Linked DNA regions of Homo sapiens. The protein of the gene in region 1 interacts with the protein of each later gene in a pairwise test. Each region holds a gene or a part of one and is shown on either strand. Other genes may lie near its edges. The genes, in order: CNTLN, RFK and C18orf54.

Region 1 (10,099 bases):
GTCTATTGTTTATGGGCATTTAGGTTGCTTCCATATCTTTGCTATTGTTAACAGTGCCGCAATGAACATACGCATGCATGTGTCTTTATGGTAGAAGGATTTATATTATTTTGGTTATGTACCCAATAATGGGATTGCTGGGTCAAATGGTAGTTCTGTTTTTCACTTTTTGAGAATTTCCAAACTGCTTTCCACAGTGGCTGAACTAATTTACATTCCCACCAGCAGGGTATAAGTCACAATATTTAATGAAAGTGTTCACTATAAGTTAAACAGTGAAACTATTCAACAAGCATTTACAAAAAATAGTGTTTTGAATCTGGAAAAGGTAAATTACATTTACTAAAATTAATACTTTGCAATCATTTAGGATCCTCAGAGGCAGGCATTATTGGCTTGACTTCACACCAGTTGAAATATTCATTAAAAGAGATAAAGGAGATAAAATGTTTTATCAATTCATTTTGCAGATATTTTTAAAATGAGAAAACTCCCAAGGTATCTATGATTTCCAAAGAAGCAAAGTAAGGAATTTCCTCTTCGTGGAGTACTCAATAGTGGCATAAAATGTTATTAACTTCTATGTCTAGGGGAATGAAGGCTTTCTAGGGCTCTTCAGCTTTTAGATAATTTCTAGATGGTACACCTCTGCAGATACTTGAGTTTGTCTTCTCTTTGTTCTGTTTGTCATGTGCCATTCCTCTGTCTATTCCATGTCTTGATAGTTTGTGGCCTGGGATTCAGATGTCTCTTAGCATCACTGAACACTGAGCAAGTTTCTGGTTGTTCCTGCTTGAACGATTTTCAAAAGGAGAGTAGGGTGGGAACAGCTTAATTCTTTCAACTTAAAACCTGTCCAGATGACTTGACTACTACAATTTCATAACTAAATTGACATTAAGAAAGAAATATTAATAAGATGGTAGAAAATTTTAAATTCAAACTATAAAAATAAATTCTTTATGGAGGAATTATTAGCAATGTGATAAATAGGGTAGAAGAAGATGCTTTCTGTGTTAGGAAAGCAGAAAGAAACTTTATTCCCCAAATCATCTCAAGTAGGCTACTGCCTATCTGCCTAAAGTAAAGTACAAGTTAGTAAACGACAAGTAATTCAAACCTTCACAAATGTGGTGAACTCTTCTACTTTTTCATTGGCTAACAGCAATGTCTTCTGTGCACCTTCTAGGACCTGTTCACTTTGCAATGCTAATTCTTGAAGCTGCTTAGATGCTGCTGTTTCAATTTCTGCCATTGCAGATTCAGTCTCACTTATTCTTGATACTAGGAGAGTAAGCTTGAGATCCTGCAAAAGATCAGCAGTCATAAAATAAAAGATATTTTATAAACAGATTTGGAAGAGTTAGTTATACATGTCAAATAAGGAAAATATTTTATTATTCTCTCTATGTATTTATTATTTGGGTAAAATTAATGATTATTTTCATTAACTTTCAATAAAACATCCTAAGTACATATTCTCATATACTTATCATCTAAATTAGTTTATGATTTTTAAAGATTACAAATAATTAAAAGCATGGAAGCTATTTTAGACCAAAAGATCCTCCACATAACATGGAAACATTTAGTTTGAAAGTTTAAGTGGGCCTACAAAATTTAGATCTACTTGTATAAATACCAGTGTTCAATAATAGTTTTCATTTCTTAAAAACTATCAAGACAAACACAACCTGTTTTCTCTAATACAGAAATATCTTTAATGTTAAACCAATGTTTGGCGTTTCATGTAGAGATACAAATCCTCTTTGCACTTATCTGAAGTGTTTAAGTAGCTTGTGGTTTTGGGAAGGAAAAAGCAACAATGTTAAAAATGAAACAAACACGATTATATTCCATCTGTAATCTAAAATGCCCTTTTTAAAAGCATACCTTTTTTTCTAACTCCTCTTTAGATTTCTGATACATCTGTTCATACTGTGACTTTTCTTTTACAGCAACGTTAAGTCTTTGCTTTAGTGAATCAATTGATACCTTCTTGTTGGAACATTCTTCAGTTAATGTCTTTACCTACATTAAAAGCATAAAGGTAATTATTATTGTTGAAGGCATTCTAGTAATATACTGTGTTTGTTCCAACAGAAACTAAATGAGTGAATGAGTCTACTTCCATTTATTTTCTCATAACGCTATCAAATTCAAGTATTATACTTACAGAACTCATATTATGAATGAAAGTAACAATCCTTAAATCAGTAACAAAAACTAAAATTGCACACAAACTAAATGAATACTGGTATGTTTATTCTTGCACCCAATAACACAATATTAATGTTCACTACATATCCATTAATTACTAATCTAAACTTCCTAAGGCAGGAGATGATTGTTTTGACTCTGAAACAAGCCAAGTTAAAGGTAACTTTCCATTGTATTCTCTAAAATAACTATTACATACCTTTTTTTGGATGAAATAAAACAATAGGATATTTTATATATATATATAGCTTATTTATAAGATTATAATATGTGTATGTAACTCAAAGCATAACAGAAAAAATAGTTTTTCAGTTTAATGCCACTAAAGATATATGTTATTTATATAAAGATTCCAAGGCTATGTATGAAATTATTATTGAAGTTAAAAAATAGCAAAATTGAAAGGATAACATTGAAAAAGCCTATAGGAAGTGATTTTAACTTGCACAGATGTGTGGAAGAGAAGAGAAAGAAAATCCATATGGATTTGTCATGCTCATGTAAAAGTTTCTTTCTTAAATCAATTTGACCTAAGAGATACTTAAATTTTCATTTTCAACAAGGAAAGTAAAGGAGATGTTCTCTCAGGTGTGGATAACATTTAGTGAATGCCAAAGCACAGGGTGCTTTATGAGTTGTGAAAAAAGCACCTTCAAAAAAAAAAAAACAAAAAAAACCCTTCTACTTTGGGTCATATATTACGTAACTACTTTAACTACAACTCCCTTTGCATGTACAACTCCATTCCCATGTAAAATTCATTAAGGGTATCCAAGAAGAAAGTACATTTTTAAAGAACTTCTGATAGTTATAGGTAATCAAGTTTTCACTAAGAAATATAAGCTTGATTCTATCATAAATTACAGTTTTAAATAAAATACTGAATAAAATGTAATTATGTATCCTAGAAATATTGAGGATTTTTAATCTTCTCATGGGATATTTATAAATAGAAACAGAATGTGTGGCCATATTATGTATGAGGTTTTAGAGAATTGAATTTTAAAATAAATAATGTACTTTCAGAGCAAAGAGTGTTACTTTGTAACAGTAAATACATATCCTATCAATATTTTCTATACATTTATTAGGATTAAATGTTTGTGGTAAGAGAGTAATTACAACAGGAAGTGATATTTTTAGTGTCAGTAAAGATAAAAATTGATACCTTTTTATCAAGATTTTGTAACATTTCACTAAAACTCTTGTTACTTTCCAAATTTACTTTCTGTCGAAATTTCAAGTCCTCTATCAAATGTCTTTTCATAGTTATATCCCTCTCCATTCGAGATATCCTTGAAAAAAAAAAAGGTGACATCAAGAGTGACAGAAAATACCTTAACAGTGGTGATATCTTACATTTTATCCAATATTATACCTACTGTTACTTTTTAAATGCTACGTGATATTGACACTGTAAATCAGTAAAATGAATTGCACTGCATAAGATATTGTTCTTTTAATATTTTGAACACTTGTAAAATCTATAGTTGTGACTTGGTAATTATATAATTACATATATGTATTAAAACAAAATATATAAGAAATGAGAAAAATTAATAACACTTATGAAAACTTAGAACTATTTCATTTAAATTACATTTTTACATTGCTGTGAAAAATCAAAGTGATATATGAAGATAATCAAAAGCATAAAAATGATAAGAAAAAAATCTTATACTTCAATAAACAAATGCAAACTCTTGTAATGAAACTAAATTAGCCATAATATCTTCTAATTTAATATAATTTGAGATTCAATCCACACAGCTGTTTAGCATAAGTTGATGAACTATTAAGTATAAAATGGTAGATGCTGTGAGAACCACTGCTACTGCTGCTGCTGCTGCTGCTACTACTAAAACAAGAATGACAATAGCTAACATGTATCGAAGGCTTACAATGTTCCAGTCACTGTTATAAGTGCTTTACATGTATTAACTCATTTATTCCTCGTAAGAACCTAATTTAATATTATTAAATTTAGGCATAGGCCTAGTAGGTAGGGAAGCCAGGATTCAAAGAGTGTTAATCTAGAGCCCTGTTAAACAATAAGCAAGACTTACTCTTAATTGATAAATAAACTTCAAAATATTATCAGTTAAAAAATTAACCAAGCTTTTTGTCTAATGCTTTTATCTATTCATATCACTTTTAAGTGCTCTTCACTTATAATGAGGTCTACAGGTGTGTTTGTGAGATACATATATCTCAAATGTATCAGTGACAACTGGAATTCTATCTAAACATCTTACTATTTCTAAGCAATAGTGTAGCTTTGAAAGATACAGAAAGAAAATAATTTTGATTCAGTGGGATAGAGCATTTAAAATCTTTGTACTGATAAACACAAGAGTACAAACTTCCATAACCTCCAGTTATTTTAAACACAAACAAAACTTTCCTTTTTTTACCTTAGCTTTATAAGCTTAGGCATTAAATCCAATACAAATACTAATCATATATTTGGGGGGCCAAATAACCACCACGTTGTAAAGTTTTTCATTCATTGTCTCGAAGCCATTAATTTGTATTTATTCAAAATTAAATATGTTTAATAACGGAAATTTAACTTCATCATTATCTAATTTAAAAAAGTAAATAGCTTGCCATTAATCATGCTATACATAGTATTCCTTAAACTTTCATCTTAGGTAGGTTTAAATATGAACTAGGGAAGGAAAACGTAAACATTAGCAGTTTCTTGGAGCACGTTTAATAGAGCTGGTTGCCACTAGGTGGCACCAAATACAATGGATAGAAATACAAAAACCATACTTTTCATGCATTTCCTTTATGTGTTCTTCTTTTGCTAGGAGTTCAAATTTCAAAGTCTTCACATTTGATGACTGTTTAGTGAGTTCATTAGTAGCATTCTAGATTAAAAATAGAAATAAATTTAAATATACCTTACAACCTTGGTCTAAGGCAGCATAAAAATAAGTGCCATTCTAAAGAAGAATACCTCTACAATAATTATGGTAAACAATAATTAAAATGAATATTTTAATATTTTAAATGCTTTATTTTATATGCTGTAATAGAAATAATAATACTAAAACTTTTATATAACATGCCAAACTATAGAGGAACACAATCATTTAAGAATTGCAAAGAGTATGTATCCAAAATACATTTACAGGAAATATGAGTTGTCCTGGTATAATGTAAATATGTGAATAATTAAGAATTTTAATGATTTAAGAAGATCACTTAAAACAAATACTGGATTTACTAACATCTTAGACGAAATATGGTCACAAATGCTTTGCTGCTCATCAAGCAGGGGAATCCATTTCCTAACCCACTGAACGTAGTCTGGCTTGTGACTTGCTTTGTCGAAAAGAATGCAGCAGAAATGAATTGTGTAAATTTCAGTTCCCAGGCCTTAAAGCTTTGTGGCTTCTCTCTTTCCCTTCTTGGAATGCTGCTCCAGGATCACCTTGCTAGGAATACAGTTGATGTATCATGTGGAAGTGTACCAAGGTACTCCAGCTGACAGGTAGTAGACCAATTGTCCGATCTATGAGTGAGGCTATTTTGTATCTTCCAACTAGGGAAATCTTTGGTTTGAAAAAATCCAGGGATATGAGGTAGCCCAGAAGAGACCAGCAAAAGAACTTCCCAGTCAACCCACAAAATCTTAAGAAATAATAAACTGTTGTTTTAAGCCACGATGTTTCGGGATAGTTTGTTAGAGAATAATGGTAACTGATAGAAAACCTCATGAATACTCAATCCTTCTTTACTTGAAGTTATTAATAATGCTACTTATTACATTATTTGTAAATAATTATTAGTTTTTCAAAGCAAAACATGTTTGTTCTGTGGTATTTGTTGTCAGTAGAGCCTAGGAACCAGAGGTGGTAACTAGAGTGTTAGAACACCTTTCAATTTTGACTCTAGTTCCAACTAAATGTGTAATCTAAGACATCACTTAGTCTTTTTGGTATTTAGTTTTTCCACACTCAAGATAGTGTTGACATACTCACATTAATCCATTTGTTAAGTTTTAAAGGTATTAAATGAATATAAATATAATAAAATATAATAGCTTTTAAAATATTTGGAGTAGTTATTTAGCTAATATTTCTAAACTACAATAAATTTTTTCTATTAGAACTATTCCTAGGTTTGGATGTTTGACTCATGCTAAAAATAATTTGAATTTGAAAAGATTAAACTATTAATTACCCAAGGTAAATGTAATTCATCAGACTGACTTTAAATATCTCATGGGTATAACATACAAATAAAACATTTGAAATAATTTTAATTTTTACATGAAACATTAATTTTTCTTAAAAACCCAAAGCTACCTCAACATGGTAACTCTTTTGAATGTTATGTTTTGATCAAATGTGTGTGTAATGTAATCAAAATTTCTACCATATTTTGCACGTTTACAGTGATGTATTGTGTCTTATTTCCAGCACTGCCTGAATAACATGTTCCACACTAGTCACACTAGTCAATTTATCAAATAATTGAAGCGTTTGCTTCAATCATTAATTTTCAATTCTTTCTCTGATGATTGTTCATTCAGTTAGAAATACGGACACCCATGATTATGCTAAGCTAATAGTGATATGTTAATATAGTGATATCATATCATAAATATTATCACTATAAATTATATATGATATACTAATATGTATTATATTATCACTATACTATAATATAGTGATGGCTTTAGGGACTACTGTGATATAAACGTCTACTTATCGCTCCTCTAAATGGTCCCAGACTGTGCTTTTCTAATTTTGTATTTACCTTAACATTTTCATATTGCCTTTTTTTCTCTGTCAATCTTTTGTTTGTAATTTTTTGCTTCTGTGTCATTATTCCTGCCTAAAAACAATCATCCTACCCCTTAATACGCATACTTCTAGTGTGCTGCACTGAAGGTGTTTTCTGCTGAGAAGTAAAATAAACTTAGAATTGTATTTAAAATAAAAGATACAGGCAGTAAATAAAGCCTGACAGTATCTTCAATGCAATGAGTTAAGTAGATATTAAGATAACTAGTTGATTCTTTTCTGTTTTTAGACTTAAGGCTGTATTATGTGGCTGAAAATGCTGTTAACTCTGACTTGGAGAATTGAGAGAAAAGCAATTTATAATAAATAAAACAATGCCAGGTTGAGATACACTTTGGCCAAGATCTCTAAATCTAACAGCTATTTCATTTGATCCTCAAAAATTTTTATCAGATGGGTAGAAAGGTATCCCTGCTTTAGACCTCTAGAGAAGTTAAGTAATTTCCTTGACCAGGTTGACGAGAAGTTAATGGCCAAAAAGTGATCGAAACCCAGCTCCTTTGTCCCTTTTCCATTCCCTACTATACAATATATATCTGTAACATAACTTAAAATCTGGTAATTTCCTTGTAATACATCCTTTGATGTATGATGTGAAACACACACATCAAAAATGTCACAATGGTAAAAAGTCATCCCTGTTACAGCTTTCCTATACTAAGTTTATTGAATATTTTTTTAAAATTTGCATAGTATAGTAATTAGGAGCATGGACTATGGAGCCAGATGGTTTGAGTTCTCATCTCGGCTCTATGTACAGTACTTGTGTGATCTCGGACAAGTAACTTATTCTTTCTGTGTCTCAGTTTTCTCAACTGTAAATGAACCAGAGACATCAGAAAAGTATATGTAAAATTACACAGAAAAGTCTAATATTAACTGGATAGTATAGAAAAGATGTATATAAACTTTTAGTATATTCGAATCTAGCCAATTTTCTCAATTAAGTCTAAAAACATTAAGTAGAAAATAAGCTACTTATTAGAAAATCACTATATTAGCAGTTTGATATCTGTTATGTGCTAAATTCTGTTTCCCCTAAACAAATTAGTATGTAGAAGTTCTCACCGAACCCTCAGTACTTTAGAATGTGACTGTATTTGGAGATAAGGCCTTTAAACAGATAATTCAGGTAAAATGAGGTTATTAGGGTGGAATCTAATTCAGTCTGAGTGGTGCCTTTATAAAAAGGGAAATTAGGACACAGACACATAGAAGGAAGACCATGTAAAGACACAGGCAGAAGACAGCCATCTACAAACCAAGGAGAGAGGCCTCAAAAGAAATGAAAACTGTTGACACCTTGATCTTAGACTTCCAGCCTTCAGAACTGTGAGAATAATATATACGTTTGCTATTTAAGATAACCAGTCTGTGGTATTTTGTTACGGAATCTCTACAAACCAGCATCAAAACAAAAATTTTTAGTAGTAGACAATATTATGTACTTAAAGGTACTTGGTCTTCTAGGAAATTTCTATGTGAAAACATGAAACAAGACAAAAGTAAAAACTTATCCTTTTTGTCCCTATACAGTTTGGTCAGTGTTCCAAGACTCTATGTTAGATTATGGACAATCACTTCACACTAATTGCTTTAGTTCTCTTTCTGACTCACACATTCCTCCAAAGCAAGAGAGAGATTTGTATGTGGGGTAAAAACTTATACCATGGAAAACCATAATGCAAAGAACTTACAGACACTCATATGGATCTATTATTACCAAAAATTATTAGACCATTTGTAGTAAGTAAAATAAGTAAAATATAAATCAACTAAAAACTGTTTATGTAAAAATTATAAATTATGATTTATGTATAAATCAACTTAAAACTATTTATGTCTTTTAGAAGTCAGATTAGACAATACTGGACCTAGCACTCTATTTTATCTTGGTGAAAAACAAAGTTATATCAGAATCATGAGGACTTAAATATATGAAGAATCACAGAAGTAAGAATTAAAGTCTATGTGATAGATAAGATCAAGGAATAGCTCAATGATTTTATCTTCTCTATATGAAACCTTAACACTGAAATGTTCAGTTTACACATTTTATCCCACATTTTCAGAGACACATTTTAGGATTCATGCCCCGAAATTGCACAACACTTCTTCCTTCACATTTCTAATATTTTATAAGTTATTTAAGATTATAAAATGTTGTGACTGACCCAAGTTATACACATAAATTGACTAAAGAAGATGGTATTCAAGAAGAATCCCAATGCTAGTTTGTATATTTGGTTACTATTAATAAAGCAAATTATTTTCAAGCAATAATAAACTCATTCATTTTAAATTTTAGCCTATTTATCCTATGAGTAAATCTGCACTAAAAGATGTATTATTGAAGGGTGCACATATCCTATTTGGGACCGAAAACAATGATGAGTCTATTTGACAATTCAACATAGTATTCCAATACCCTCCTAACAGGGATGATTATTCCATTTCTAATGTACTCTGTGCATTTACAATCAGGATTTTCTTTCTAGTGACTCACATTATAGCAATGGTCCCATATATACTGCTCTTTTTAGCTTCTAGCTAGCAATCCCCACTGAAGAAAATAATTAAATATGTGAGGAATAAATGGGCTTAAGAAGCATGAAAATGAACTTTCCAATTAAGTGTGAGGATCACTCACAAATCCTATTTCTTACAAAGTAATTCTATTTAAACTAAGGACAGCCTTACTTTTAAGTTGCTGACAGTTTCGCTTGGTCTTAGATTCTTTTTTTTTTTTTCTCTCCTCTCATTGCTTTTTCTCTACATACTTCCTACTATTTTAAGTTGGTTGTTGGTTGGAGACAGAGAAGGAGGAGATAAATGGGAGGGAGAAGAAGCAGAGAGCAAAAGTGGGTTGGTTTCATTCTCAAGTTTAACTTGCTGGAAGTATGTAGAGAAAAGCAATTCTGTTTATGTTGACGCATTACATGCCTGAAAGGATTCTGTTCAGCTGGAGGGAGGCATGGGGGCAGAAAGAAGTATTAGAGTAGCAGATATTGGCCAGTTTAAATCAGCTCCTAAATTAGGATTTCATGGTATCTTGTCTT
Region 2 (9,500 bases), about 59 Mb from region 1:
GCAACCTAGATCCCTCGCATGCATAGTTCACAACAGGCTTCACTCTCCTGGGAATCTAATGCCCCCGCTGATGTGACAGGAGGCGGAGCTCAGGTGGTGTATTAATCCATTCTCACACTGCTATAAAGAACTGCCTGAGACTGGGAAATTTATAAAGGAAAGAGGTTTAATTGACTCAGTTCCACATGGCTGGTGGCTTCCCCCATGATTCCCCTGTTCTCTTCCTTGACACGTGAGGATTATGGGGATTATAATTCAAGATGAGATTTGGGTGGGGACACAAAGCCTAACCAGATCAGGTGGTAATGCTCACTCGCCAGCGGCTTACCTCCTGCTATATGGCCCAGTTCCTAATGTACTAATCCGTGGCCACGGTACCAATCCATGGTCTGGGGTTGGGGACCCCAGCTGTAGATGATTTTTGCCTGTTCTTGAAATTTATACACATACGTGTTTTTGTGAGGTGTCTGGTTTCTTTTACTGTTCTTTTTCTAGCTTTTTGAGATGAAAGCTTAGATCATGACTCATCTTCAATCTTCTTTGTCTAATAGTATTTAAAACTATAAATCTTTTAAGTGTTAGCTGCATTCTACAAATGTTTGTCACATATTATCATTCATTACAAAATAGCTTTACATTGTGACATTTTTGTATTTTTATGCCTAATTTCTTTCTCCATTGCATTGTGTTCAGAATGTTCTTTGTAGCAGTCCTTAGACATTTGCTGATACTTTTACATATCGCAGACAATAGCTGCAATTGAAATCATCACTTGATTAGCTGATAATAGTCATTCTCCAAGATTTAGCAAATTTCTGTGCAGGCTAAACAGATATAATAGCAGCCTCTATCCTCAAACTTTCAGCTTTTTTTTTTTTTTTTTTTTTTTTTTTTTGAGACAGGGTCTCCCTTTGTTGTCCAAACTGGAGTGCAGTGGCTATTCATGGGCATGATTAGAGCATACTGCAGTCTTGAACTCAGGAGCTCAAGCTATTCTCCCAGCTCAGTTTACCGAATAGCTGGAACCATAGGCCCACCACACCACACCCAGCTAATCTTTCAGGATTTTTGATGATGACCTCTCCAATTTTCCTGGAGATGTAGCATTGTTGTGGTTTACTATCCTGGCTTCTACTTGGCACTTGTAATGGTCAGGGAAGCTAAGTGGAAATTCTGTCAATAGTCAAGTATGTCTATCTCAAATATACACGTGGGAACAAAAAATAAGCACAGGGTAGGTCCAGGGACTTACTGAGCTGCCTGAGAAATGACAACCTGGGGTTCAAATTCCATTTATGACCTGACCTAAAAGGAAGCCAATTGTCAAAGAAATGTAGAGTCACAGCGACATCAGAGTATCAATGGTGAATTTGGAGCTGACAGCACAGTCACAGACTTAAGTCTCATAGTTCACCAATTCTCTTGTTGTTTAATATGTATTTAACCCATCCATTGACTTTTTAATTTCAATTTTTCTTTATAACTATATATTTCGGACAATTCTCAATTATCTGCCCAATTTTTACTTTACTTTAAATGTTAATAGAGACAGGATCTTACTATGTTGCCCAGGCTGGAGTGCAGTGGCTACTTACAAGTACCCATAACAGCACACTACAGCCTTGAATTTCTGGCCTCAAGTAATCCTCCTGCTTCAGCCTCCCAAATAGCTAGGATTATAGGCACATGCCACAGCACCCAGCTGCCCAATTTTTATACAACACCTTGCCATTTTACCATTTTTGTTACTCTTTTACTTCATTACACATATTAAACAGTCATTTCAAATTCTATATCTGATAACCCTGGATCTGCCATCTCTGTAGAGCTTATTTTACAATTTGTTTCTGGCATCTTTTTTGGCAGAATAGGTTAGTTTCTTGGCTCCATCTCTGAAGACCAGACTTCCACTTCCATCTCCCAATCAGAATCATGTTTCATGGTAAGCTCTAACTGCAGGCTGTAAGCCTCCATAGTTGAGGAAGATGAGAGTTCTGGGGATGACTGTTCAAAGAGTACCAGCATGCAACAGAGAAAGGCAAACGAGTTCTAAGTTGCTGCTTATGGGGTTGGTGGCAAAAGACAAGAAGGTTACAGAACTCTGTTTTGGGGCAGGAGTTATGCAAGGGAACCCAGACCTATCTATACTCTTCTGGCTCTTCTATCTCCAAAATGTAACAGGAACCCTTACTCTCAGGAAGTGGACTTTAGTAGTGATGCCCTGTGATTGCTCTCCAAATAAACCTCAGTCACTGTGTTGCAGGCATAAAACACAGGGGATCCTGAAGGCAAGGCCCTTTGTTGTAGAACTACAGCTGCCACCTATATCTTGCTCTTCAGGCAACTTCACACACTTAAGAGTAGCAATCAGCCAACAAATTCGAAATACATAAAGTAAGATTCAAGCTGACACAGGGAAAGAAAAAATATCACTTAGTCAAAATTTATTTCAAGGCCTGAAAACATTCAGACTAATCAAAATGGTACTACTGTAACTTCTTATAATACATAATATAAAAGTTTTTGAAAGATATAGACACAATTAACCCCTAAACAACACACTATCTGATTCTCAAAAGCAATGGCTATTTAACAAGATGTAAAAGGACAATAACATATCAAAGAACTTTCACACACCTAAAGATAGCATTTAGCAGCAAGTTAGTCAGACAAAACAAACACAAATATTTTCACATTTCCTATGTTTGTTTTTAACTTTACTTCATAAAGCCACTGATAATTGAGGTTTCTTTCAAGTATAAGATTTCTAAAATTAAAAACTGTTTTTGACATATTTTTATAAAGAAATAAAAAGCAAAACGCAATCCAACTATTTATATGAGTCCCTCTTCTCCAACAGCTTTAGATGTTTTTCTGAGTACTTTTTACACAGAATATTTTTATTAAAATCAGTTCTAATTCATTTATGCAGATTAGGGGAAAATGATTCATAATAAATTAACTTTAAAATTACCTTCTATCTGCTTCTACCTCTATCCCCCCATCACCACCAAATCTGTTGCTACAGTGAACTGTAGCAATGTACTGTTTGAGGGGGCCCAAAGCATCTGTAATCTTAATTTCCCACATATTAGTTAGTAGGAGGAAAAATCCACAGTATGAAGGCTATTTAACTAAAACTTTATGCTTTTCCCTCAAGCTGTAAGTACTCTTTAGCATTAAATTACATCGTGCATATACAACTACACCCATTTAGATTTGCCTTGGAATATAATTTCAAGGCCTTAAATATTAAAAATAATTTTATAACTATTTCATAGTTTAATTGGCTCTTAAATAGTTTTGCTAGGGAGGAAACATTTTGTGTTCTTTAAGAAATTGATATGTGTAAATGTGTTCACTTAAATCTTGAGAAAACCTAAGGATGAAGTCTGTTGTTTTGTTTTTCCTAAAAAAGGAAAAAAGAACCAAAGAAAAATGTTGAAGAACAAGAATATTTACCATTAAAAAGAAGAAACATTATCCAACAAAAAGGAGACATATAGATTTGAAAACACTTATTTTACTGTCTTCAACAACAACAACAAACAGATAGGCAGGGGAAGTCCAGAGGACTCAGAATTGAAGCAGCTCTATACAATAATGAAGGTGGTACAATGATGTGACTGCAAAGAAAATGACTAAAACAAAACTTTACAAACATCTTCATGTTTGTAATGTATTAATGCACAAAATATCAAAAATAGAAAGTCTGAGTTTCTTCCCCGCAGGTTTATGATAAACTATCAACCTTCTATTTAATGCATTTCCTTTTTTTTTATTTATAGAGATGGAGTCTCGCTATGTTGCCCAGGCTGGTCTTGAACTCATGAGCTCAAGCAATCCTCCCACCTCGGCCTCCCAAAGTGCTGGGATTACCGGTGTGAGCCACTGCACTTGGCCTTAATGCATTTACTTTTATAAGCCTTCTCTGTTTAGAAGTACACACTACACAAGTACATACATGCTGGCATTTTACCATGAAAATTTTAGTTTTCATCTCAAACTAGTGACTTGCCTTTTTACCCATACTTATACACATGTAATACCTTTCTAGTGGTACATTTTAATCAATATATATTTTTTAAATCTTATTTTTAACTCAATCTTTTTAGTGCTATGATATGATGGGCTTAATTTAATAGTTGAAGCATGATATGATAACAACATTGTACGGTTTAAACTAATTCACAACTGTAGTAAAGTGTTTGATTTTCAGTATATAACCAAGATGATGCTGAACAGTAATAAACACAGAAACACTAGAAAACAGTGAATGAATAAATAATACAATTTTTCATCAGTGGCCATTCATTATTTTGCTTTTAGAAACCTGGAAGAAATTGTCTTCTTTGATTTTCAAATGTTCTGGTAACTCTAGTCGTTTCTTAGCTTCTTCAATATCACCTTGAATTGCTGAAATAAGTGACTCTGCAGAGAGAATATACCAGGTAAAAATGATGAAAAACCATTAACATACTTTTTACTACTACTCTGTTTAGCCAATCCTAAAAACTCACAGGCTGGCAGTATCTCTGCACAGGGTAGATACCCAATAAATGTTTGTTCCATCACTCCTTCCAGGCCTAAGTCAATGGTACACAAAAGATATGTCCCTAGGCCGGGGGCAGTGGCTCATGCCTGTAATCCCAGCACTTTGGGAAGCTGAGGCGGGCAGATCACCTGAAGTCCGGAGTTCGAGACCAGCCTGGCCAGCATGGTGAAACCTGACTCTACTAAAACTACAAAAATTAGCGGGGTGTGATGGTGGGTGCCTGTAATCCCAGCTACTCAGGAAGCTGAGGCAGGAGAATCGCTTGAACCTGGGAGGTGGAGGTTGCGGTGAGAGGGGGCGTCACTGCACTCCAGCCTGGGTAACAAAGAGCAAAACTCTGTCTCAAACAAACAAACAAACAAAGGTATGTCCCTAATCTTATATTTTAAGAGAAAGGCATAGGCATAAATGTACACTGCAAATATCAAATGGAGGAAAAAAGCATTCACTATTATTTTTGGTTGGTATTTACACTTGTAAAAGAAACTTTATAACAGAGTTAAAACTATCACACTACACTAATACATACCTGGTAACATGTTTCAAATGTTCTCTGATTTACTATATCTCAAACTTCACACATTTTGAAAGATTTCATTAACTTCATACCGCTGGAGAGAAGCAGCCAGCCTGCTAGGTTCAAAGCTAGACTCCGTTATTTACTATGTGACTTTGAGAATGTTACTTAATCTCTCTGTGCCATTTCCTCATCTGAGAAATAGGCAAAATAATCCCTCACAGGTGAAAGAAGATAGATTCACGTAAAGCACTTAAAACGGTGCCTGGCATATATTAAATGCTCAAATATTATCTGTCCTGCCATCATTATTACTGGTAGTAGTGGTAGAGTTACCTGTGGTAGCAGTAGTAGTATTTAAGAAGATCAAAATAAGAACTTACCTAAAGAATCAAAGTTCTTTTCTGGTCTCAGGTAGCCAACAATGGCCACATTGAGGATTTCCCCATAGAAGTCCTCTTTGAAGGTATGCATGATATGTGTTTCCTATAGTCAAGAAATGTTACAAAGAGTGCTATCAGACTACAGTGTACTGAAATCTGAAATACATCTTCATGTTTATGGTGAGTTAATTTAAATGAAACAATCAACACTCCTTAAACTTTTAAAGATTCAGGTTAAAATCTAAGTGCAGTTTTTCCTAAATTTTCCCAGCACTCCTGTTTGGATCTTATAAACCTAACTGAGTGAGGTGACAGTGTCTGGCATGATTTGCTGTTACTTAAAAACAAACAAACAAACAATAACAAAAAAACTGACACGTATCCAAGGAAGTAAGTATCTTATCAAGGTGAGAAAACAGGACACCAAAGAGGGAATGAGCAAAGTATTAAAAGATGTTACTACTAAACAACTAGTTGTTAAGGTCAGTCAGCATTTGCACACGTCTGACACACAACATGTATGGAAACTTCAGAGTTTGGCAGAGCTGAGGACTGAAGGGGCAGGAGAGCCAATGCAGCTTCCTGATCAGGGAGTAAAGTGGCAAAAGGGTACACAGCACATTAAAGCAAAATGCCGCATGACGTAGAAAGTGCCTCAGAATCTAGTTCAGCTAAATCATCTGGGCAGTACTGTGGTTAAGAGGTTAAGAGCACTGACTTAGAGTCAAAAGTCTGGGTTCCCACACTTGGTTAACTGTATAACTAGCTTCCGCGGGGCTCAGTTTTCTCGTCTGTAATGGGTGGGGGGCGGCTTGAGTTAGAAGATACATAAAGTGCCCCATGACTTTGGGGCTATGAACCAATATATTCTTTCTTTTCAGTAAACATTTGAATAATAAAAAAGAAACTAAGATATGTAAGACTGGTTGGGTGCAGTAGTTCATGCCTGTAATCCCAGCACTTTGGGAGGCGGAGCCAGGAGGATCACTTGAGGTCAAGAGTTCAAGACCAGCTTGGCCAACATGGTGGAACCCGGTACTCTACTAAAAACACAAAAATTAGCTGGGCATGGTGGCGCATGCCTATAGTCCCAGCTACTCAGGAGGCTGAGGCAGGAGAATTGCTCAAACCCAGGAGGCGGAGGTTGCAGTGAGCCAAGATCACACCACTGCACTCCAGCACTCTAGCCTTGGCGACAGAGCGAAGACTCCATCTCAAAAAAAAATTTAAAAATAATTTTAAAAAATATGTAAGACCCTGACACTGACAATTACAAGACATTATTGAGAGAAATGGCAAACTTCCCAAAGTAATCTACGAATTCAATGCTGCCCCAATCAAAATCCTAGCAGGTTTTTTAAAATAGGAGAAACTGACAAGTGATTCTAAAATTTATATGGAAAAACCAAAATTATTCATGAAAATCTTGAGAACAAAACTAGAGGGCTTATACAACTAGGTATCAAGACCTATGATAAGACAAGCAAACCAAGTATGTATGTGAATTTTTGGACTCACACACATATAAGGTCACTTGATTTATGTCCCAGGTGACACTACAGCACTGTTGTGAAAGCATGGTATTTTCAATGAATAGGCTGGGTCAATTCTACATCCATATGGAAAAAAATATTAATTTAAATCCCTATCAGATACCATACTAAAAAAGTCAATTTGAAGATATGTCAGTCAATTAAACTTTTAGAAAAAAACCACAGACAAGTATCTTCATGACTTTGGAGTAGTCAAAGATTTCTGAAACAGATTATATAAAGCACTAACTATAAAAAAAATATTGAACTGGATTGTATTAAAATTAAGAACCTCTGGGCTGGGTGCCATGCTCATGCCTGTAATCCTGGCACTTTGGGAGGCTGAGGCAGGAGGACTGCTTGAGCCCAAAAGTTTGAGACCAGTCTGTGTAACATGCTGAAATCTCATCTCTATAAAAAAATTTAAAAATAGCCAAGCATGGTGGCACATGCCTGTGGTCCTAGCTACTCGGGAGGCTGTGATGGGAGGATCACTTCAGCCCAGAAAGTTGAGGCTGCAGTGAGCTGAGATTGCACCACTGCACTGCAGCCTGGGTGACAGAGCAAGACCCTATCTGAAAATACAAAACAAAACAAAACTCTGTTCTTCAACACACCATTGAGAAAAAAAAAAAAAAAACCACACACACACACACAATGAAAGAAATTTGTAATACAACAATACACAGTTCCAACAAAGGAAGTGGATCTAGATGTGTTACTAAGAACTTATTTAAGGTCAGTAAGATAACGCTTTTTTTTTTTTTAAAGGACAAAGGTCTGGCACAGGCACTTCACAGATGTGTGTTACTGGCAAAGGCAAGCAAAAGTTCAATTTTCCACTGGTAAGATATGCCTATGTTTCAAATTCAATTTTTCCTAACACTCAAAAGGCATTCCTTAACTGGCTGTATAATAACATTTTTGTTATCTAAGTAGCTAAAGACAAATTAGTTATGGGCTATTGTCCCCTCCCCTTCTTTTCCTTCCTCATTCAACAGAATGGTATTTTGTGATCTTTCGATTGTTTTCCTTGTCTCCAAAAAATAATTTTCAAATCATTAATACTGAAAAATAACTGAAATACTGAGCAAAATGTTAAGTACTTCTGCGTCATTACTATTGCTTACGCCAGCATTTAGCTCTGTAGTTTTCCAGCAGTGACACACTTCACTTCTATTAACTCCACACAGAACAAAATTTAGCTTCACTGTAATTTGTTTTTGCCACACATTTGAGCTGACAAAAGATTCAGCCAAATCTAACAGATAAAACACTGAAGTTGTGGGGTCCTGTAAAGAGTAGGGCAGAAAAGTATACCCTCAGGTGGTTTAAAAAGGAAAGAGAAAAGCACCAATGTGGGACTGTATCAATAAGCACCATCCTCCATCCACCATCCATGTAGTAAACTGTTTTATCTTAAGAGGGTGACCAAGCGCAATTGATGCATGAAGTAAATGGTGAATGAAGTGCATTAATTGTGGCAAGCTCAATTTTATGAAACAGGCTTTTAAATCATTTTTATCTTTGGTCAAGTGAGTCTTTCACAGACAGCAATTATCAAAGTCAGTATTATAATTTTGGTTTGTAACTCCACTCTTTATTTTCTACATAATTTAAAAAATAAATGCATAAAAAAACCAATTATTAATCTTTGTTATTGGGTACCACAATGTATAAGGATGTAATCTGAGCCAGATGCAGGCAGTGGCATGTACCTATAGTCCCAGCTCTCTGGAGGCTGGAGGAGGATTACTTGAGCCCATGAGTTTGAAGCTACAGTGTGCTACAACCTGGCCTGTGAACAGCTACTGCACTTCAGTCTGGGCAACATAGTGAGACCCCATCTTTAAAAAAAAAAAAAAAGATGCAATTTCTGAGTTCTGTATGCTATTGAAATTAAGTTGGTATAAACTCAAATTAAACTTTTAGAATTTCAGGATGTTAAATATAAACCCCATGGTAACCACAAAGACAGTATCTATAGAAATACACAGAAAGCAATGAGAAAGGAATTAAAATGTCACTACAAAACAAAACAAAACAAAAAGCACACTACCACAAAAGGCAGTAATAGAGGAAATGAGGGACATAAAAGTTATAAGGCATATAAAAAACAAATAGCAAAACAGTAGATGTCCCTCCTTATCAGAAATTACTTTAAATGTAAATGAATTAAACTCTCCAATTAAAAGACAGAGATTGCCCAAAATTCCAGTATTTGAACTACGTTGTGATTACCACTGATAAGCTATTTCTGTAACGAATACTGTAATATATTATTCTAAGTCATCATACCATTTTCGGTTACAGAGCAAAATATAATGCTTACCATAGACTTCTTCGTATTCTTGTAATATGGGTTCCATCCTATGCTCACCACCATCTTATGGACATCTCCACTTCCAACACTGGCCCAACCATAGTAAATACCAGTGGATATATCAGCTGGAAGATTATCTACCACTTGCTCAGGAAAATTAGCTAAACAACAGAAGAAAATATTTTGAGTC
Region 3 (10,862 bases), on another chromosome or scaffold:
ATACCATCTTGTGGTAATAAATGAAAAATGCAATTTAAAGCAAGTAACACAAAGCTATGTTCTATGGAGTTACAATATTATTAATTACCGTTCGTTTAAATATAAATCAGATATTCGCATGACATTTTTCATTTGGAAAACTAAACAGTTTTTCCATTGCCACTTACTTACAAAGTAACAGGAATATTTTCCCATGATCTGTCTGCTTCAAGTTTATCTAATGAGCAAGGACTGTCATCCTTTTTCATGGACTTTGGTAATTCTTCAGTACACTGCTCTAGATTTCTCTTGGCCTTCAAGATAAGCAATTCAATTTTGTCACCTAATTGTAAAAGATGACTATTAATCCTTGAAGAAAAAAATTAATGTAAAGCATAGCAAAATCTCACAAAGTCAACAAGAGTTCTGATCATTTGGAATGTACATTCATCTATAACAGCAAATTATGTTAAAATGTGACATTTCAAGCAAAGAAAAAAATGGGAGAAAAGACATTTTCTAGTTACAAAATGCTGTATGTGAAGATTATAAGCATTCCAAAAAGATGTATTACATGAAAACAAAACATAAAAGCTCCCAGATATCACATCAACTTTACAGCACTTCTTTTGGTTTAAAAAAAAGAAAAATAAATAACTATAAGCAATAAACAAAGTATTACCACTGAATGGCTTTGTGGATTGTCCTGGGAGAAGTGGATTCTCACATTGACACTGGCTATGTTCAAAATCACATTTGTATTCATTAACTAATTCTTTATCATCACTCAAGGAATTTGAAAAGTTTGAGGGTTCAAAAGCATATTCAAAACAATCTAATTTATTGATAAGCCGAGAAGTTCCTTGTGCCTGATGACTATGTCTAGGGGAACACTGATCATCTTTAAATATCTGATAAACCCTTTGACTATTTGCATCAGGTAGCAAGTCTTGATTGTGCAGCCAGACTGGGTATTTGAAATCAGGTATACTAGTTATCCCTGAAACATTAAGGTCAGATTTCTGGCTAGTGAGCCATCTTGGGTAATTCTTTTCAAGACTGTGTTCTGAACTGTCCTTGAAAGACGATTTCTTGGGAAAAGACAAAGATGATTCAGAAATGCAATTATTAGTCCTATTCATAAGTTTTGGGTTTTTCAGCCTACCACATTGCTTTCCATTTATATTTGAGCGTATAACAGGAGTAACAAAGTTATCCTTGCCCATGGAAGTGTAGGGTCCTTGAAAATGTGGATTCTTCTCAATGTCCAATGAACCCAGTCTTCCACGGCATTTCTTGTTTTTCTTGCTCGTTCGGTGACTCGGTCCAACATAAGTATAAGAAAATGATCCATCTGCTGGGAGTCTTAATAGATCATCAGTTGTTAGGCTCATGGAGTCTATGTCATTAACGGTGTGTCTTCTACAGGATATGAAGTTTGAGTGCTTTTTGTGATCAAGGTTTTCAAAAGCTGAAAAACGAAGAACAGTTTTGTTTATTACATACAAATATTTTATAATATCCAACAGTAAATGAGAATTAAGAATTTAAGAGGCATTTTGCTGCTTTCCCCTTATCCTCACTAAAGCTTTGATTAAAAGCATAAAAAGGTGTAGGTGGATAAAACAGGATGTGCTTTTTTTCTCACGATTCTTCGTTCTGTGTTAATTTCTACGTTTCTCTCCAACCTCCTGAATTTTCCTGTGTTCTCTAATTTACTGTTCCTTCAACTTTCATCATCTAGACATATCTGATACACTAATACAATCACAGTAACATTGGTCACTCAATATTGGTTGCAGCATAGAAAAAAATATGCTATTAAACTAGGTGGAAAAATAACTTGTTTTCTCACCTACAAACCCTTCAATGGCATGGATTATACATAGAGAACAGCTGTTCTCATTCTTTGCTTCCGGAATATATTGACCACATCCCTCCAAGAACTGAATACAAACTTTTTCTATTCTAGGGTCATTCTGCAAGTGTTAAGTAAAGTAGTAATTGACTTATCAACAACTGCATTTTCCAAACTTGTCTTCAAGGAAGCTTTATTATGGACAAACTCTTAACATCTTGTGAATATTACTGTTCCACAGAGAATTATATAATCATTTTACAAAAACACCCAGATCTCAATATTATGTTATTTTTACTCCAAAGTAACAAAAATAATGTCAAACTTTACAATACTACAGTACATCTCCCAAATGCTTCAAAACATCTGAACACAAAGAAAACAAAGAATAAAAGCATACCATTGTTTGGTTTGTAAATATAGTTGCAGAACTGTGACATATTAGTAAAATCCTCATCAATGTTAATTTTTCCAGTGCTTGCACCAGGATATATTTGGCCTAGATCAAAATCATCAATATAAGCCTGTAGAGCTTGAGAAGCAGATCTGTACAGCTTATCTTTATAGTGAAACGAGCCATCAGAATTAGAGGAATTACTACCACTCAGGGTGCAGCTTGCCAGCAGGGCAGATACTGAAGATTCCTGAGAACAAAGTCTATGTTTTGTCTTTGATTTCGCCATGGCTTCTTCAAAGTGGATTGTTTCTATTCATTTCCCTTAAAAACAACTGTAATACAAAAACGAAATGTTAAGATGCCAATTAAAAGTGACCATACACAAACAAAATTACTAAATATGTAAACCTTTTGTAATTTTCTTTAAATAATAAAATCCATTATCTATAACAGACACTCCTTGTTAGGAATTGTAGATTTTTGTTATATTTATTATTGTGAATTCCTTCATCAATGATTTAGAAAACATTTTTTGAGTACCTACTATGTGGCTGGAAGTATGTATACAAAAATTATCTGAGAATATACATGGAAAATACCAAGGAGAGAGTACTCACTTCTTAAAAAGTCCTAAAAACTACTTATGAACCTCTTTTCTCTTATGGTGATATATTCTATGACATCACAATACCTAATATTCCCCTATACATCATATTTTTCAAATCATAAGCCTACTACCATGTGCTGCAGATAATAGCGCTCAATAAATTTTTTAAAGCCATCAAATGAAGTATTCAAAACAAGAACAATGGAGAATATTCACTTTCAATGTTATAAATGCTAGTACATTTACAACATTTAACTGTAAATAAACTGCAGGTCTTATTCTGGAATGAGTTAGCAATATACACTTTTCCTAAAATAGTTAATCATTTCCTGACCTTCGTTTTTGGTACCACCCTCCCTATTTTCAATTCTTATGTTAAATGGATTCAGCTCACCTCTTTCAAAGGAAGCTTAAATAATGTGAAAATCAACTCAATGTGTTCTTCTGTTTTTCCATTATTAAAATTGAGAGAATCCCTGTCTACCTCAGTACAGTAACAGGATGTATATTTGAAAACCTAAGAAATCACAGAACGAACCGGCACTAATTCAGTCCATGATGACATTCTTTTTAAAATTAAATGAATGGATTTCCTATACTAAAAAAGTATTAATGTTGAGGACTTAACATATGCTATGATGTTATAATGTTTAATTTTTGGCTATAATTTTAGAAATATTTGTTATAACAACTTTTAATGTAATCTTAGTAACTATTAAATTTGGCTTTAAAACATCGAAAGTTTTCTAATTAAATAAGAGACAAAGTAAAACATCATCCTACCACAGCGTTAGAGCATGCAATGGCCATTACAAGAGATCTGACCGTGGTCAGTGCAAATGGCAGAACATAAGGTAACAGTTGTTTCGTCTCATTGATTTATCTGAATTCTGTAATACTGGTATATCTCTGACGAATGGCTAAACTAAGCCAGCTTTACCTTTTTCGTATCCCTTTTATTTAAAGAAGTTTAAACTCACTCAAGTAAATTTGTTTGGATAAGCCTGACCAAATGTTTTCTGTCTTTGAATGCCGAACAGGCTACTGATTTTATTTTACAAAACCTTGAAAGAGAAAGCTGTTGTATTGGTCTCCGTAAGTGGGTGATAACATTTACTAGTTATTTCAACTCACAGGACAGACAAAAAGAAAATGCACAATTTAAGTTTCATTATGAAAAGTTTTCCAACTTTTCCCCAAAAGAGTATACAAAAGTAGAATCGTTCAATAAACCCCTATGTACTCATCATCCTGCTTCCAACAATCGCTGAACAGACCCCAATTGTAGCTAAAGTGGGTAGGGACCCACCCACTTCTCCCCACTTCAGCCACAGGATTATTTTGAACCCCACATATCTCATGCAAATCCCATATATCTTACCATTTCCTCCGTACAGGCTTCAGTTCGAATCTCCAAAAGAAAATCCATCACGCGGAAGAACAGAATGTTAAACTTATTGACAACAAATTTTAACTAACTTTGATTCAAAAACAGAATGTTCAGTGTTAAATAGCCAATGGGAATATCGCACAGGAAATTAAGAACAACTCTTGGAAATAGCTCTGTGACTGCTAAGTTAGGAAAGGGAACGTTTGTTTACTCGGCAGCAGAAAACCAGGAACCCACCGACCGGCCAGCGAAGGTCGCCCGTCTCCAGCAGTGCGCATCGTTCCCCTACCCCGGGCGCCCTGAATTCCAATTTTTCCAGTCCCAATCAGGCGACACCCTCCCTTTGGTGTTCCACCGCCCGTCAGTCACAGACACAGACAAGTTCTTCAGTGAGATGCTTTTCACTCCGAAACCATTTATTCAGCAGCCAGGGCGAGCGCAGCAATGGACTGAAGGAGAAGTGTTCCGAAGCGACAGCCCCAGAGCGCAAGCCCCTTCCTGTCGCCGCCTCAGGTCCGCAGACGCCCGTGTGAGCCCCCTCCGCCGCGTCCCGCGACCCTCCCTCGCCCAGGGGGCACTCCCCCTACAGTGTTCTTCCTTCCACAGAGACTCCACAAGCGCCCTCCCTCAGGAGACGTCTCCTCCTCTTTCCTCGCCACTCTCCTTTCGCCTTTTCTCGGCTGTCACAGGATGGGACAACCCTCGAAAAGACACCCTCCTTTCCGTCCTAACTCACCCCTAAGGCCCCAAAATAAAAATAAAGGAAAACAAAAACAAAAACCGCACACTTCCACAGCTCTCCGCCGAAAGCTCAGGCCTGTTACCCAACGCGAGACACCACAAAGCATCCCCAACCCGGACACCGCCCCGCCTCAGGCTCGGCTCACTCGCAGCTTCCTCCGCAGTCACAGCAGAGCTCGACACCCGCGCTCGCTTTCAAACCGCCCCAACATGGCGCCGGCCTGCGGTGCGCATGCGCGGCAGTGGGGCGCCGGGCGCGAGCGGAGATGAGGGAGCGGCCGGAGAAGAGAGGATGCTGTTGAGCGTTAGGTCGCGACCCCTGCTGGAAGGTGCTGTTTCTCCCTCCTTTCTGGGGCTGGGAATGGGGGGATGTGGGCTGCATCCAAGTCGCTGCCCCCCACGCCCTTCCAACCTCCGTCACAGCTATTCTCGGCCAGTTTGCGCGGGGACTTGCTGATCTCCCTTCAGCCGGCCCCGGGGTCTGCGGGAGGGGACTGGGTGGGGAGGGAGACTTAAGGGCGCTGGCGGCTGTCGTTCCGGTCGCTGAGAGTCTGCCCCACAGCTCCAGTTTTTCCAAGTGAGTTCAGCCTCCCCGCTTCCAGAGCATCCCCCGCCAAAAATAAGATATCGTCTCAGCTAGTAGGCAGTCCCCCCTCACCACTTCTTTCACTCCCTCTTCAGTGCCTTTCCTCTCACACCCCGGAGCCTCTCACACACAAAGCAGATGGGAGATTGGAGACCCGAGTTTAGCCAGGGATGGGATTTAACAAACTCCTAGGAAGCCTTGATTCCCAGGGAAGAATGGCAGTGACCCCGCACGGATTGGGGACCCAGTCAGGCAGCTCAGAAAGAGGGTCATTGTACAAACAGATGTAAAGACTCACTAACATGTGTGAACCTGTCTGTAAGTCTGGAAGGAATCCAGTTTCAACCAATTGGTGTATCAAAAAAAGAGGCCATCCCAATGTTGGTTTATGTTTATTTTCCACTGACCCTATGAGTGAAGATATCCTTGACCATGAGTCCATCTGAATATGTTCCAGCTCATCCGACGTTCCACCACCATGTAATACAATTGTAGTCTTACTGTTTGCACTTTCTTCTTTTTACCCTTTGTAGCCTACTAAATTTTACCTTCCCTTTTCTCTTAGCAAATGAAAAAGTCCGGAAGCTATAACGTTCAGTTTAGTGGTTAAACACAGGTCTATTGTGGCAGTAATAGTTGGTGATTTGAAAATAAGACATACCCTGCTAGTGGTATGTCCCAATAATCTTCAAAGTCTCTAGATCAATTAATATCAAGTAGGTTTCCAATAGGAAATCAAGAACGGTGTTTTATATGCTAAGACGAGCCCTGGTCGGGGATTAACAATCCTTGTTAATTGTTAGTGACGTAAGCTTAAAAACTTAAATTTTTGTATCCACGTTCCACCTAAGTGTCTTTTTAAACTGAGTTCCTTTAAAATAGTTTCTTAAAGATTCTTTTTATAAACAGTATCTTTTAAAGTTTTTTGTACTATATTTTTCTTTCATCTTGGGGCATATATGTAGCAAATGTTTCCTAATGAAGACAAAGTATAGATAAAGGACACTGAGAAGATATAAAGAAAATTATCAAATATATTGACCTAATTCATGGATCAAAATAATTCTACTTCTGCCTTGTTTCCTCACAGGTTAAGAGATATGGAGATTTCCACAAGGATTTGGAGAGGAGCCCCAGTAGTTACTAAAATTCTGCATTAGATCTGTCAGGAAAGGTAAAGAAACCAGGACTCTGCTAGGAAAGAGGAGGTTATAATAATGGTTTACTAAAACTTTTCAAATATAGAGACTATCAACTACCTGTTGTGCCTTGCTGGAGAATTAAATAAGAGAAAATAGATTTATGATCCAACCTGAAGAGTTTTAAGTGAGAGCTAAGGAAGAAATGTTCCAATAATTAAACTTTAAGAAGGTTTATTTAAGTGCTTAAGGAAGCAGATCTTTGGAGAGTTTTTTAAATGATGGATTTATATGTGTCCATTTTTTTAAAGAGAAACTAACTATTTTGATAACCTAGTATAGGGCTCCACACTGTTTAAAGCATTTTTACATATATTAACTCAACTAATCCTTATAATGATTCGGTGAGATAGATATTATTATCCCCATTCTATAGATATGGAAGTTGAAGTTCAAAGGTTAAGCAATTTATCCAAAATAATATAGCTGTACTAAGTGACAAAGTCAGGATTTGAATCCAGTTCTGTTTTCACCTTACCTGCCAGCTTCCCCTAACTGAAAGCTGGATGATGACCCGAAGGACCAGTGAGACTGCAGCTTCCGGAACTCATTCACAGCAGTAATAGTTATGTCTAGTATCTTACTCAACTGTTGTTGCTACATCTACCACAGTGCCTGTCTCAGTCCTTTTGGGCTGCCATAAGAAATTACCAAAGACTGAATGACTTGTAAACAATAAATTTATTTCTCAGAGTTCTGGATCCTGGAAGTCTGAGATCTGGGTGCCAGCATGGTTAGGTTCTGGTGAGGGCCCTCTTCTGGTTGCAGACTGCTAACTTCTGGCAGTGTCCTCACATGGAAGAAGGGGCCATTGAGCTCCCTGGGGTCTCTTTTGTGAGGGCACTAATCCCATTCATAAGGGCTTTGCCCTCATGACCTAATCATCTCCTAATATCACCCTGGGAGTTAGGATTTCAACATATGAATTTTAGGGAGACATAAACATTCAGTCCATTGCAGTTTCTAACTTCAAGCAGGGTTCAATGTGTTTAAATTGAGTTGATTTAAACTTGATCCTATCTGAGGAGGTGACATTTAAGCAAAGATACCTATGAAACAGTCAGTTATATGAACACATTGCAGAAGACAGTGACAAGCAGAAGGAACAGCAAGTACAAAGAACCTGAAGTCAGAAATTGCTTTATTGTATGTGAGGAACAGCCAGGAGATCAAATGATTGGAGCTAAGTGGACAAGAAGAAGACTGGTAGGAGGTATATTTGAAGAGGAAGCCAGGGGTCAGATCGTGTAGTGCCACTGCTACGCACTTTAAATAATCCTCAAGAACACATAACCAACAGCTCATAATGCTTCACAAGACAAAGGACGTGTGATTAAACTGTTAGAAATTAAAATTATTTATTGAATGACTATCGCATGCCAGGCACTGGATAGAACCTTAAGCATATCATCTCATCTAATCCTCACGCTAATTCTACAAGACATATATTATCCTAATTTTACCTTGAGAGAAATGGAAAAACAGAAATATTAAGTAACATGCTTCACACAATAGGTGGCAGAGACAAGATATGACCCAGGTTTCTGATTTCAAAGTCTAGATTTTTCCACTATACCACAGTTTCTCATTTGAAAGACTGTAAGGAGAGAGGGGTTCATGCATACATGCATTCATCAAGTAATTATGTTCATTTCTATGTGACAGGCATTATAGAAATAATATTAAAATGTAAGATAGCACTTTTTAAGTTTTTATATGGTTATATTCTTACCAGTTGTTTGTTTTTAAAACTTGCAGATAGATGGACTTCAAGGCAATTGCCCAACAAACTGCCCAAGAAGTTTTAGGTTATAATCGAGATACATCAGGCTGGAAAGTGGTTAAAACTTCAGTAAGAAAATAAGTTAAATTATGTTTCAAGACTTTGTTTTTAAGTAAGAAACAATTCATTGTAAAGACTTTTTTAAAAAAATATTTTCTGTTCCAGGTGCAGTGGTGTGCACCTATAGTCCCAGCTACTCAGGAGGCTAACACAGGAGGACTGCTTGAGCACAGGAGTTTGAGGCTGTCATGCACCATGATTGTGCCTGTGAATAGCCAGTACACTACAGACTGGGCAACATAGTGAGACCCTGTCTCTGAAAAATATATATATATATTTTTTTCTTTTACAAACCAGAAAAAAAAGTGTTTTTACTTTTGTTAGTTTTTCATTTTCATTTTTCCTGCATTTGACAGCTAATTATTTGTGGATTTTTATTCCCCTTTGAGAAAAAGATAACTGTTTCCAGTAAGGCTTCTAGAAAATTCCATGGAAATCTGTGAGTACAATCTTCTATTTACAATTACTGTTTTAAATTCAATGCCATTGATGTATCTGGAATTTCAGTGCTGCTTCATTAGCTATAATAAATTATTTTATAGTAATAAATAGAAATTATTAAGTCACTAGGCAGAAATGTGATAATAATAAAATACAGCAATCAGATACCATCTAATCTTCTATTTTCAAATCTGATGACAATCAGATAAAAAATCTCTTCTAATTACTAATTCACTAAATAGGAAATTTTCACTTCAAGAAATAATTACTATAAAAGCAGATTGGTATTTTCTTGCTAACAGTAATATTTTATGGAATTTTAAACCCTTCATGTGTCCATTAAATGAACCACTAACAAGTAAAGTGTATTTCTTCATTTTATTTTATTTTCTTGAGACAGGGTCTTGCTCTGTCACCAGGCTGGAGTGCAGTGGCACAATCTCAGCTCACTGCAACCTGTGCCTTCTGGGCTCAAGCAGTCCTTCCGCCTCGGCCTCCTGAATAACTGGGACTACAGGTGCACACCACCACACCTGACTAATTTTTATATGTTTTTGTAGAGATGGGGTTGCCCAGGCCAGTCTCAAACTCCTGAGCCCAAGCGATCTGCCTGTCTTGGCTTCCCAAAGTGCTGGGATTACAGGTGTGAGCCACTGTGCCCAGCCTACTTCCTCATTTTAAATATGCATTTTTTTCTGTATGCTTCTTTTAAATATACTTTTAAGGATAAAATTATTTCAAATACAAGTACACTAAGGGAAAGTATATTGACTTTTTTTAGCTTAATCTTTCAGAGTTCATTTATTGCTCATGATAGTACATCAGGGCCATCAGATCATCAAATTTTATTCAATTCCTTTTCTTTTGGAGTCCACTCCTTCTTTCAACTACCTCATTTTATGTTTCTTGCTTTTTTAAAATTTCAATAAAATTTACCTATATTATATTTCAGCCCAATTTTTTACCATTGGACAAAGCTGATATGCTTTCTCCCACTCACTTTAACAATGATCAGGAAAATAATCCCTACCTTATTGAAATAATGGTTCTAATACAGGCACTTTCAAAAATAAACAGGGAGGAGTGGGTATGGTCAAGCCTAGGTACACTAGGGGAATTAACTTTTGGATAATTTGGCTTTTTGGTATCTTACAGATCAGACCAGTGTAGACAGCAACCTTGGCATTTTTTAAAAGCTTGGAAGTTATTTATTTAGTCTACAAGTAATTATTGAGTATTTATTTAGAGAGTGCTATACAAATGCCTAGAGCCAAAGAATAGGTTCTGTTAAGCTGTTCTAAAGCTTTACTGGAAATTTTCATCAGAGATATTTTACTCTTACATGCAAAACTAAACAATTGGTACTTTTTGCACTCACAGTTTGAGTGAAATTTATATGCACTGTATACTAGGTATTTATTGGTGCACAACAAATTATCCCATAACTTAGCTACTTAAACATTTATTATCTTATGGCTTCTCTGGATTAGGAATCCAGGAACAGCTTTGCTAGGTGCCTCTGCCTCAAGGAATCCACAAGGCTGTAATCAAGGTGTCAACAGGGCTTAGGTCTCATCTGAAGACTCAACTGAAGGAGGCTATGCTCCAAACTCACTCACATTGTTGTTGGCAAGATTCTCAAGTAGCTGGGACCACAGGCTAGTTCTTTGAAAAGAAAAAAATGGCAGACCATTAGTAAGATTAACCAAGAAAAGGAGAGAAGATCCAAATAAACTCAATTAGCAATGAAATGGGAGATATTACAGCCAATACCACAGAAATACAAAAAGATCATTCAGGGCTACTGTGAACACGTTTACA

What was found.
Region 2: the proteins of CNTLN (region 1) and RFK interact in binary tests that used the Homo sapiens proteins (3 or more experiments, as listed by UniProt).
Region 3: the proteins of CNTLN (region 1) and C18orf54 interact in binary tests that used the Homo sapiens proteins (3 or more experiments, as listed by UniProt).

What each region holds. Positions count from the first base shown.
Region 1 is NC_000009.12:17,457,913-17,468,011, reverse strand, and holds part of CNTLN (centlein), read right to left. Parts: intron 5,097-10,099; coding exon 4,999-5,096; intron 3,516-4,998; coding exon 3,389-3,515; intron 2,032-3,388; coding exon 1,894-2,031; intron 1,307-1,893; coding exon 1,121-1,306; intron 790-1,120; coding exon of another isoform or gene 688-789; exon of another isoform or gene 1-687. UniProt on the Homo sapiens protein: Required for centrosome cohesion and recruitment of CEP68 to centrosomes.
Region 2 is NC_000009.12:76,383,099-76,392,598, forward strand, and holds the end of RFK (riboflavin kinase), read right to left. Parts: intron 9,472-9,500; coding exon 9,320-9,471; intron 5,559-9,319; coding exon 5,456-5,558; intron 4,432-5,455; coding exon 4,301-4,431; 3' UTR 2,428-4,300; downstream 1-2,427. UniProt on the Homo sapiens protein: Catalyzes the phosphorylation of riboflavin (vitamin B2) to form flavin-mononucleotide (FMN), hence rate-limiting enzyme in the synthesis of FAD. Essential for TNF-induced reactive oxygen species (ROS) production.
Region 3 is NC_000018.10:54,352,231-54,363,092, reverse strand, and holds the start of C18orf54 (lung adenoma susceptibility protein 2), read right to left. Parts: upstream 5,188-10,862; 5' UTR 5,018-5,187; exon of another isoform or gene 4,320-5,017; 5' UTR 4,223-4,319; intron 4,208-4,222; exon of another isoform or gene 2,852-4,207; intron 2,567-2,851; 5' UTR 2,521-2,566; coding exon 2,238-2,520; intron 1,451-2,237; coding exon 662-1,450; intron 323-661; coding exon 172-322; coding exon of another isoform or gene 168-171; intron 1-167. Other genes in the region: STARD6 (stAR-related lipid transfer protein 6), read left to right, coding at 8,520-8,609, 8,957-9,039. UniProt on the Homo sapiens protein: Might play a role in cell proliferation.